Linked DNA regions of Homo sapiens. The protein of the gene in region 3 purifies or fractionates together with the protein of the main gene of each other region. This does not show direct contact. Each region holds a gene or a part of one and is shown on either strand. Other genes may lie near its edges.

Region 1 (3,445 bases), on a different chromosome or scaffold from region 3:
CAGGCAGCTAATGGTTCTATCAAATGAAACTTAAGAAACAAAATTCTTTTTTTTTTTTTTTGAGACATGAAAATTGTTTAAGGCTAGAGGATCATAAGCCTTGGTCACTTTTCCAAATTTCTATTTCCTGATGTTCTTTATTGTATTTTTCATAGCTCTGCAGTTATTTTACGTTAAGGTTTTAGCTTTCTTACATTCATTGCTTGATCTGGTCTTAAAATTTTTTTTGATTATCATCAATACTATCTATTTACAAAAGATTAACTGCATTTACCTATGGAAATAGATAATAAACCACCAAGAATTCATAAAGGTTAAATTCTTGTGTAACTCATTGAGAAATCAGCGTTTAAAAGAGCATATGCGAGAATAATTGTGTGGTAATCAAATACAAAAGAATGCCATCACTTAGAGATGACCATGATAACCAGCCTTTCAAGTGATTTGACAACAGGTGCTTTGATTTCATGAAATTTTGTAAGCAGCCCTAAAGAATTAAATATTTTAAATGCGTTTTAATATAGGAAAGTAATACAAAAAAGTCCAGTTGCAGAAAAATAACGGGGAAAAGCTTTTTGTTAAAATTAATGTTTTGAATAGAAAGATCTTAACAACAAAGCCTTATAGAAACTTAGAAACAGTGCCAAATTTAAACCCATGTAATAACTAAGTGCATAGAAACATAGTAATAGTTTTATAACACAATTCTAGACAGTTTTAAATAATTTAATCAAGTCATGAAACATCTACTCTTTACATTGTACCTTTATTCCAAGAATAAAGCCCTGTCTCTAACTGGTAGTTTTCCTGGTTTGCAGCCTGTGTGCTCTATATACTTTCAGTCCTTGAATAAATTCAGTATTAGATAATTATTTCATATGCATTGAATGTGTCACATAAATTATTTGATAAACAATCTCTACCTTATACATCTCAAAAGCTTAAAAAATAAGCCAGCCAAATAATTTTTCTTTCCTCAAATCTTTATTGTCAGTCTATCACCTATATATCTATAGTTAGGGAAGCTTTCATATAGAGCAAGGGTGCACTCCAGATATATGATTCATCTACTAATTAATAATGAATAACTTGCAATGTGCCAGGTGCTCTTTTAAAAGCATTTAGATGTTTTAACTTATTTAAATCTGTAAACATTTCTTTTAAAAGTATGTTATCAGTAATGAAAATGGCCTACATCCTACTCTATAAAGGCCAGTAGTTTACTTCTTGGAATATCATCTTGGTCAGTCATGATCTGAGGAGAATATACACCTGTTTCAACAGTGATTATCATTGTATAAAATTTTTGAAACACCTTTTGGAATTACTAAAGGGTTGTGACACATCTCTATGTACATTCTCAGTAATGAAAATTTTTAACTTCAGGGAGAATTAAATTTTGGAAAGAATAAAAAATATCTAGGCCAGGCATGGTGGCTCACGCCTGTAATCCCAACACTTTGGGAGGCCGAGGTGGGCAGATCACTTGAGGTCAGGAGTTTGAGACCAGCCTGGCCAACATGGTGAAACCCTGTCGATACTTAAAAAAAAAAAAAAAAAAAAATTAGCTGGGTGCAGTGGTGTACACCTGTAATCCCAGCTACGCAGGAGGCTGAGACATGAGAATCGCTTTAACCTGCGAGGCAGAGGTTGCAGTGAGCCAAGATCGTGCCTTTGCACTCCAGCCTGAGCGACAGAGCAAGACTGTCTAAAACAAACAAACAAAAACATATCTAGCTAGGGAAAGGGGAAAGTATTGGAGATGAAGTTGGGTAATAACACTAAGATATGAATAATATGCTTAATTTTCTCATGTAGTTTACCAATTCTAAAGGTAATTTCTTTTTTTTTTTTTTTTTGAGACGGAGTCCCGCTCTGTCGCCCAGGCTGGAGTGCAGTGGCGCAATCTCGGCTCACTGCAAGCTCCACCTCCCGGGTTCACGCCATTCTCCTGCCTCAGCCTCCTGAGTAGCTGGGACTACAGGCGCCCGCCACCACGCCTGGCTAATTTTTTGTATTTTTAGTAGAGACGGGGTTTCACCGTGTTAACCAGGATGGTCTCGATCTCCTGACCTCGTGATCCGCCCGCCTCGGCCTCCCAAAGTGCTGGGATTACAGGCGTGAGCCACCGCGCCTGGCCCTAAAGGTAATTTTAAAAGTCCTCAAAATGTTTTAATTGTAGCATTGCGAAAATAAATATCTAGCTTTCCAAGTTATTATGCACATATACCATCTGTGTCAGTCTGTTCTCATGCTGCTAATAAAGTCATACCCAAGACTGGGTAATTTATAAAGGAAAGAGGTTTAATTGACTCACAGTTCTGCATGACTGAGGAGGCCTCAAGAAACTTACAATCATGGCGGAAGGCAACTTTTCACAGGGCAGCAGGAGAGAAGAATGAGAGTGAAGCAGGGAAAAGCTCCTTATAAAATCATCAGGTCTCATAAGAACTCAGTATCACGAGAACCGCATGAGGGTAACCGCCCCCACGATTCAATTACCTCCCACTGGGTCCTTCCCACAACACGTCGGGATTATGGGAACTACAATTCAAGATGAGATCTGGCTGGGGACATAGCCAAACCACGTCACCATCGTTCCCTAAATGTAAATGAGTAAGAGCCACTTTACTTTTTAAATGAAATAATATGCTTTATTTTAACCGTTCTGGAACAAAAGCAAATGAAAATCGACTCAGAATATCAACAGACATTCCTTTATAGATTCTCAAAGCACAAAGAAATTTGTATGATTTTATAGTACTAACCGCTGCATTTTACAGATGAAACTAATTCCCTGAAGGGTGTGGTGATTGCCAATATGACTTAGCAAATCAGTGGCAGAGCCAGGTGTAGAGCCCAAGTCTCTTGTCTTCTACCAGGTATTTATTCGTTTCACTACCCTACTATCCCTATCTGTGGTTTAAGAATAATACCAGAGGAGATAAATTGTTTCACCCTTTCAAAACAATGTAAAAATTACCTTCTAATCGAGTATTTGGTATTTACTGCTCAATGATCAACTAGAAAAAATATATAATACTAGATGGGATCTAATATATTCTAAATTCTTTAACTGGTAACTTGTCAATTTAAATGTCTTTGAACTACGCTTAGAGTTGTAACATCAAATGCTATAGAAACAGGCTGTAAAAATCTAAATGTCTCAAAATGGAAGCAAAGACATACCTATATAATGATTCATTTATCCAAATGAAATGTAAAGTAAATCCTTACTGGAAATTTTGACTTGAAAATAATAGACCATACAGAATTCTTGGATAGCTCATAAAATTTCAATTCAAATTACTCACAAAAAGTCCCAATGCCCAGTGAATAACAGATGTTTCTTAAAAAGAGATCAATGAATGTATTTTTGGAATGATGTCAGAGATGAGCCTCTTTTATAATCATTTTTGATTAGACATATAGCTTCATTCACAAA
Region 2 (3,999 bases), on a different chromosome or scaffold from region 3:
CAGAAAGTAGGCCATTTTCTAGCTGGAAGCTTTTGTGTATGCATGGCAAAATTTTGATATCTGTATCCTATAAGTATCCTCTCAGTTCCAGATGGAAAGAAAATATTTCTCTTATTCCCTTTGCCTTCCACTTTATACATACTACTTTTCCACATAGGTGACTATGTAAATTTCCCTCTTTCCATGTTTTCTAAGCACTTAAATAGCCTTGATTTGCCATCCAAATAGATACCGGCTTCAGTGTGCTGCTTAAGTTAAAACCAAAATACATCTATTATTCTCACTGCTTATATCAGTGGTGCCAGAATGTTTTTATATAAAGGCAGTAACACTTTGTGTTTCTTCCTATGAGTTACGCTAGACATTCAATTTCAAAGAGATGTTTAAAATTTAAATAATTTGAAAAGGATTTACTATATTTATTCCTGATGCCAGCTTAATATCAAAGCATAAAAATTCAAGTAAAATTAAGGCTGCCATAAACATAAAATCACATCAATGTCAAGTTTCCCCAAAAACAAATTCAAATCATTTTCCAAACACTGAGATTAATCTGCTATTTAAGTAGGATGTGTAAGTCCTGAAAATACTCAGCTGTGTAAGTTTAAGCAGTAAAACTGAACTAAACCATTTACCAAAACATTACATAGTCCTAAAATTGGAAATTAGTCACCCTCCCCCTGAAAAACCCTATATTTAACATGTGGAAATTTGTGAGTACTAGGGAACTTTTCAACAAATATTTCATATATCTAAACTTCATTAACTAGGGAACAGAAATCTTGTAAAATTACTCTTAAAAGTTACCAAATTACAGAAGCATCTTCCAATGAAAAGCAGCTCTCTAATTTTTTTAACATTTCACAACATGGGCTCCTAAAGCAACACTAAAGAATCATAACGGGAGGCCCTTTTCCTGTTATTTTGCAAAGACTGGGTTATGGAGGGAGTGTTTAACTGCTACTGTACTATACAATTTCTGTGTCAACAGCACACGCCTTCGAAAAACTCATCTATTAAAAAACTTCCCAAAGTAGGGAGTTTTTGTTTCTTTTAATTTATGAAGCCAAAATACATTTGGAAAAAAGAATATGCCTCACTGATAATATGAAATGAAAACTGCACCCTACAGTCAGCAAACTGAACGCTGGTTTTAAATAACTGATTTAATAAGAACTTAACATGCGTGCAGAAGGCTGATACAGCCTTAAAGAATGACAACAAAAATTAATACTGCACTCGACACAGGCCACCTTACATCCAACGGAGCCTGAATAGCAGCCATCATTACAAATGTCAAAATCAATATAGTACTATGCACCATCCACCTTCTTGCAATAATAAAGAAACCAACTCAGATTTCTTGGTGGTGTAATCACAATTATGACTGAGGCAGAAATGTACGCAACACAATGAAGAAAATACCACAAATCAAAACCACTCTATGTAAAAACATAAAATTGCTCACTGGGGGATGGGGGGGACATTTTGCCATCCAATAAAAGGAATCTGGCCAAATCCCACCTGACCATTCACGTGCCCTTCATTGAAGACCAAACCTGCTTTCCTTATTTCTCCTTTCTTTCTCTTCCTAGCCTCCCATCATCTCCCTTAACCTGTACGAGAAGACAGGCACGGGGAGGGAGGGATTCGAGAATCGGGAACAAAAACCGAGATGTGGACCACATCAGGAGGAAGAGGGGAGGGAAAGGGTGACACCACTAACCTGTCCCAAAGGCTTTGGCCACCAGCCAGGCCAGATTGCAGGCGATTTTGGCCCTGGAGAAATCATAGTGGTCAAAAGGCTTGATGGCTGGAACAATGAACGTCTTTCTCATCTCCCTGGGGTCTGCAGCATCCCCCATCTTTCACCGCGGCTCCTCGGGATGTCCCGGCCCTAACCTTCACATGGCGTGGCCTCGCCACCACGGGGGTCGGGAGGGAGGGAGAAGCAAGCTCAAACCATCGGGGCCCGGGCGATGTCCGCCCGGGCGCCGACGGAGGAGAAGCTCAGCTGTCCGCGCCGCGCGCCTGCCGCCTCCCGCGGGAGCCGCCGCCGCCGCCGCCGCCGCTCCCGGGCATAGGAATGTGGCGGCGCCGTCTCCGTCCGTCCGTCCGCGCGAGGTCCGCCCCGTGCCCGCGCCCCTCCGAGCCACCCGCCCCGCGAGCCCGCGTGTGAGCGAGGCCGCCTCCCCTTTGTCTCGGTTTAGTCACACGGGCTTGGGGGAGGGTGGAGGCTGGAAGGGCCCGGAATTTTAAGGGAGGGGGGATGGGGGGAGCCTTCAACAATCACGTTGTGGAAAATGTCCCCGCCATCGCGATGCCCGCACGCCCTCGCCTCCCTCTCCCCTTCCCTCGGAGCGGGGAGACCCCTCAGGCCCCGGGTGGGCGGAGGGACGAGCAGGACGAGGGGGAAGCGCGGGGCGAGCTGGCCCACCCAGCGCAGCCCGGCCCCTGCCCGCCGGAGACGCAGCAGCGGAAAACGTCAAAATCACTGCGGCTCACAGGCCGCCGCCGGCCCGTCCCCTCCTCTGTGCTCCCTCCCGTCGCCGTCTCCTCCTTCCCCTGCCGCCGTCGCCGCTGCCGTCTCCCGGGTCTTCCTCCCTTGCTGACGGCGAAGGTGGTGGCCGGGGAGAGGCCGCGAATCCCAAGCTCTCAGTTCCTGTCTTATCAGTAATGTCCTTGTAATTTTTTCCTGCCCCCCTTTCTGCAGCTCGCTGGATCGTTCCCCCTCAGCCGCCGCCGCCGCCGCTGCGGTTTTCCGGCTGCGGCACTGGATGAAGGAGCAGATGCGGAGACTGAGCATGCGCCTTCGCGCGGCTCCGACCCACCCCCCCCAACCCCCGCCCCCGCCCCCGCCCCCTCCCCGCTTCCCTCCCGTCTCCGGCCCACTGAGCATGCCCAGCCTCGCTCCCCGCCCGCGCCCGGGATTCGGGGCGGCTGCCTTTTAATCATCGCTCTGGAGTACTCGCTTCAGTGGACATCCTCCACGTCCCTGGCTTTTGGCTGCTGCTGCCTGCACTGCTGAGAGAGGAAAAGGAAGGGAGGGAGGAGGGAGAGGCCTGGCAATAGCTTTCGTATTCTACTTACACAGTGCTTCATCGAAAAGAGTTGATATTTACTTAAAATGTTCATTATGTGACACACACTTTGCAGCGAACTTGACCTGCACTATCTCATTTAGCCCTCGCAATAATCCTGAGAGGTAGATGTCATTGCTGATTGTCCACGAAAGAGAGGTGGAGTTGATTAGGTCATACATGGAACTTAACCAGGATTGAGGATCTGTGGGGGCTCCAAACCTGTGTTAATTTCATGATATCGAGATATTTTCTTAACTCAGTGCTCTCCACTTAAATTTTATCTCTGAGAGGGCACACGTCCAACAATGCCTCCCCATTCTCTCAGAAAAGAGCATAAATTCTTTCACAAAACAAGCTAATGCCCTTTGTGATCTGGCATCTACAGGCCTTTATAGCTTCATTTTGTCAGAACTGCTCTCTATTTTCTTCAATGAGCATGCCTTCTCAGATCTCTACCTCCTTGCTCAGGGTGGTTCCTCTGTCCACCCAGCTTACTCCTACTGCACCTTCAAACTCCACAGTAGTCACTTCCTCCATGAAGCCTTCCCTGACAGCTGCTGACAACTTTCCAGTCAGGGCTGTCACACAGGTGCCTCCCCTGTTGTTCCCGGAGCACCCTGTTCTTATTTCTGTCGTAGCATCTGTCACATCGTGTGGCAATAATCAGTTACTTGTCGGTTTTTCCCATTGATGACATGATGACAGGGTATATCTCCAGCAGCTATACGGTGCCCAGCCCCATAGTATAATTGCTCAATTAATGGACTACATGTGAATATTATCAAAGTTAACACATACTGAGCTTACTTAAATCACTAGCTCCTCACGTCTCATTTTAATACATTATCTAATTTTATTTTTAAGTGATTGTTGTTGTTATTATTATTATTATTGAGACGGAGTCTTGTTAAGTCGC
Region 3 (3,500 bases):
GTTTCAAAATGATACCAATTTTTAACAAAGCTTTCGCCTCAATTTTAAAATGGTTCTTAATGTTTAGTTTAAAATCTCTAAAATCATTTTAAAATTTAATTATATCATATATTTATTGCCTTATCTTTATGATTCACATGTAAATGTATTCACTCAAAAAAATCTAATCTTAGGCATGGGGTAAGAGTCCTTAGTCCAGTGACCAAGGTTCCCTTTGAACAGTCTAAACCTCCCATGACAGTGTCTGCATATTATTTTTCTTTTTCATTCTTTCTCAAAACAGTTTTATTACTAAAGGCAATCACAGGATTCTAGAGAATCTTTTTCTCTCTTCTCTCTCTTTGATTCTGATCATATTTGTGGGCTTGCTATGTATGACTAGGCTCATTTATTTATTTTTTTTTAAAAATCTTCTTAGTTTCAATAGACTGTGGACTTAGCTGATCCCTCCCCCAAATAAACACAGACACAACTATAATACAAATGCTAAGCTTCACTGCAAATTACTACACACAGTGCCCCAAATATTTGTCCTACTTAATATGCATTAAATAAAAATGTACGAGAATTGTGAAAACTCAGAAACAGCCAATTGTCAGCTAGGTTACAAATATAAATGTGACTGTGGTTTTATATTGCGTTTATTAGCAGAATTTTTTTCATTTTTTATTTTTTTGTTTTTGGCTAGGAAAGTTGCTCCTAGTTCACAGGATAGAATTATATTAATATTCCATGATGTTCTTTAGTGAGAATATGACTTCCTTATGCTTTGATACTTGAACAAGCGTGAGAAATATTTTTCTATAAGAAAACAGGGAAGTATGAAAAATTAGCCCCCAAAATTAAGCCCTATGGAAATTAAAAGTTAAAATTTCTTATGCTAGCTTATTTTTGTTTTTTGTTTTCAGTAGAGATTAGGGTTTCACCATGTTGGCCAGGCTGGCTCAAACTCCTGACTTCAAGTGATCCTGCCCATCTGGGCCTCCCAAAGTGGTGGGATTATGATTGTGGGACACTGCATCCAACCCCTTATATCAGGATATAAGGTGAAATAATATTTCACATTGTGCCAAATAAATCAGGCACTGACATATGTATACATTAAATTACAAGAACTGTTTTGAAAGCAAATGAGACATTAAACTCATCTATACTGATTTACATTGAATATTAATTTATTTAAATAGAAAAGAGAGAAATAAGAAAGTGTACACAATATATAACTTTGCCTATCACTGAAAGAGTCACAAGAAGATGCAGTAGAAGAAATGGAAAGTGTGTAGTAAATGAGACCTATGTAGATGACATTGGGTACTTTCATTGATGATTTTCTCCTCTTTTCTACCCCATTTTAATAAGATTTCAGAATAGACAACACAATTGAATAATTTTATTTTTTGTAAAGTGAACTAACATACTTTTTTTGTAGACTTCCCCTGCTGGACCTGTCCATATACCAAGCTGTGCAGCTGTGGCACAGGTATGTGCAGTTACACCTGGCAGCAGGTGACAAACCCCTTCAGGCTTGTTCTAGATGTGTTTTTAGATTCTTATTGCATCCCCCAGGGTCAAATCTCTTGGCTCTGTTACTGACTTCTAACTTGGAATTGGATGGGAACACTCCCTTTTCCCACAGGAAAAGGCCTTTCAGCTCCAGTTTCTAGTGTTCTGGGCTCTTTGAGAAACACAATATCTCAGGTTCTAGCCTTGGAGGACACAGAGAGGCCACAATGGAGGAGGATCCTGGAGTAGACAATGTGGCTGTGTAGCACTGGAGGTGGTCAACAGTGGCTGACCGCTCTGCCAGGCTACTGTCTGGTAGGCTTCAAATTCCCATTTGAGATCTGTGGCAGGGGATGGGATACCCAGGAGAGAAAGAAAGAATTCATAGGCTTCTGTGAAAGGCCAGAATATTTGATTTTATGGGCCGTTTTAATCTTAATTATAACTTCAAAGCAAAATGTTTGTAATCACTAATCTCATTTTAAAGTTAACAAGGTCATGATCCCTCAAATAGCCATTAAAACTATGCTATTTCTGTGGCATGTTAAAATCTTATTGCTGAACCCCCAAAATGTGTATGAAGTTTATTGGTTTAGTAAGAGTTTGAAAGTTTCTGTAGCCAATTGGAAGCTGATATAAGAATATCTAGGCCTGGATAAAAGCCAGGCAAACTAGCAGTTTATTTCTCCAAGTAACCAGCTGTGGTTTGTGTTAAGTGTACTGCCTCTTATCATCTCTGCAACTTCCAAATATTCCATGATGTTCTTTAGTGAGAATATGATTTCCTTATGTTTTGATACTTGAACAAGGGTGAGAAATATTTTTCTATAACAAAACAGGGAAGTATGAAAAATTAGCCCCCAAAATTAAGCCCTACGGAAATTAAAAGTAAGTTAAAATTTCTTATGCTAGCTTCTCAGCATAAGTTCTCAGCAATATCATGGTGGGGCCCTGGTTCTTCAGTGCTGAGGAAAATACCTAGTGGTAGTCACTGGTATGAGTGGTTTCAGCATGCAAGACTGTTATGTTTGATCATAGTAGTCAGGAAAGGATGGGAAAGACACTAGAGAACTATTGCCCCTGGGAAAGACTGTTAAATAGCCAGTCTGAATTACTGATGGAAGGAAAGGTTAACAGCTGGGCTACGACTACCTGCTTTAGCTTCCTGAGGAAAGATTTGACCTCAACTCAAACTCCCTACAACTCTGAAGGCTGATGAGGGTCTTTTAGCATCTGCCATTACTCACCACTAATCCAAGAATAAATGTTCCTCAGCTTGCTGTACCTGGTGCCAGGATTGTTTATTGTATAACTTGTAATTTTATGGGCTATATCCACACTAAAAAAGGGAACTATTCATATGCTTTATCAAGGTCTACATGGCTAGCACTAGCACGGTATTTAAGATGCAAGACTTCAGACATGCATGGCAGCTTCCCAGTGGTGATGTGACCCATGCTCTCGTCAGCCCCTTGTCAACCTTAGGACCAAAATTCAACCCTTGTGGTGACTGTGGAGGGGCCTCAGAAGCTGCATCTGAGTGACTGAGTCCTCTGTGAAACTACTGTTGTGCTTCCTGTTATGTACCTGTCTAAGTAAAATCAGAGTAAGGTAAGCCAACAATGTCTTGTGAGTTTGACTAATAATCTGAACTTAAACTTACTACTGTGGTCTTGCAACTGGTCTTTCATAATGCTTTGCTTATGAAAATAATAATTTCTAGGTCAAGGCTATCACTAAGCACACACTTTGTCTTGCTCCCAAGGAAGACCAATACTTGGCTTTTACTATTTTTGAGTCCTTGAACTGTTTCCTTTTATTCTATATATACTACTTGGGCCACAAGCAGTAATCCAAGGCAAACTGTACCAATCTATTTCACACTATGACCCTGTTGAGCTGAGATCACCCCATGAGTTTTCACATAGAAAAATGATCAGCTTGTTAAAAAAAAAAACAAAAAACAAAAACAGTGGTCTATGTAATAGCAGTTTTGA

What was found. Proteins that work in one complex are often made in the same cells at the same time.
Region 1: the proteins of SNAP91 (region 3) and BRIP1 purify together in Homo sapiens (affinity purification with mass spectrometry; one large-scale study listed by BioGRID and IntAct). This does not show direct contact.
Region 2: the proteins of SNAP91 (region 3) and CAMSAP2 purify together in Homo sapiens (affinity purification with mass spectrometry; one large-scale study listed by BioGRID and IntAct). This does not show direct contact.

Annotation. Positions count from the first base shown.
Region 1 is NC_000017.11:61,678,639-61,682,083, forward strand, and holds the end of BRIP1 (Fanconi anemia group J protein), read right to left. Parts: 3' UTR 501-3,445; downstream 1-500. UniProt on the Homo sapiens protein: DNA-dependent ATPase and 5'-3' DNA helicase required for the maintenance of chromosomal stability. Acts late in the Fanconi anemia pathway, after FANCD2 ubiquitination.
Region 2 is NC_000001.11:200,737,694-200,741,692, reverse strand, and holds the start of CAMSAP2 (calmodulin-regulated spectrin-associated protein 2), read right to left. Parts: upstream 2,801-3,999; 5' UTR 1,866-2,800; coding exon 1,727-1,865; intron 1-1,726. UniProt on the Homo sapiens protein: Key microtubule-organizing protein that specifically binds the minus-end of non-centrosomal microtubules and regulates their dynamics and organization.
Region 3 is NC_000006.12:83,587,102-83,590,601, forward strand, and holds part of SNAP91 (clathrin coat assembly protein AP180), read right to left. Parts: intron 1-3,500. UniProt on the Homo sapiens protein: Adaptins are components of the adapter complexes which link clathrin to receptors in coated vesicles. Clathrin-associated protein complexes are believed to interact with the cytoplasmic tails of membrane proteins, leading to their selection and concentration.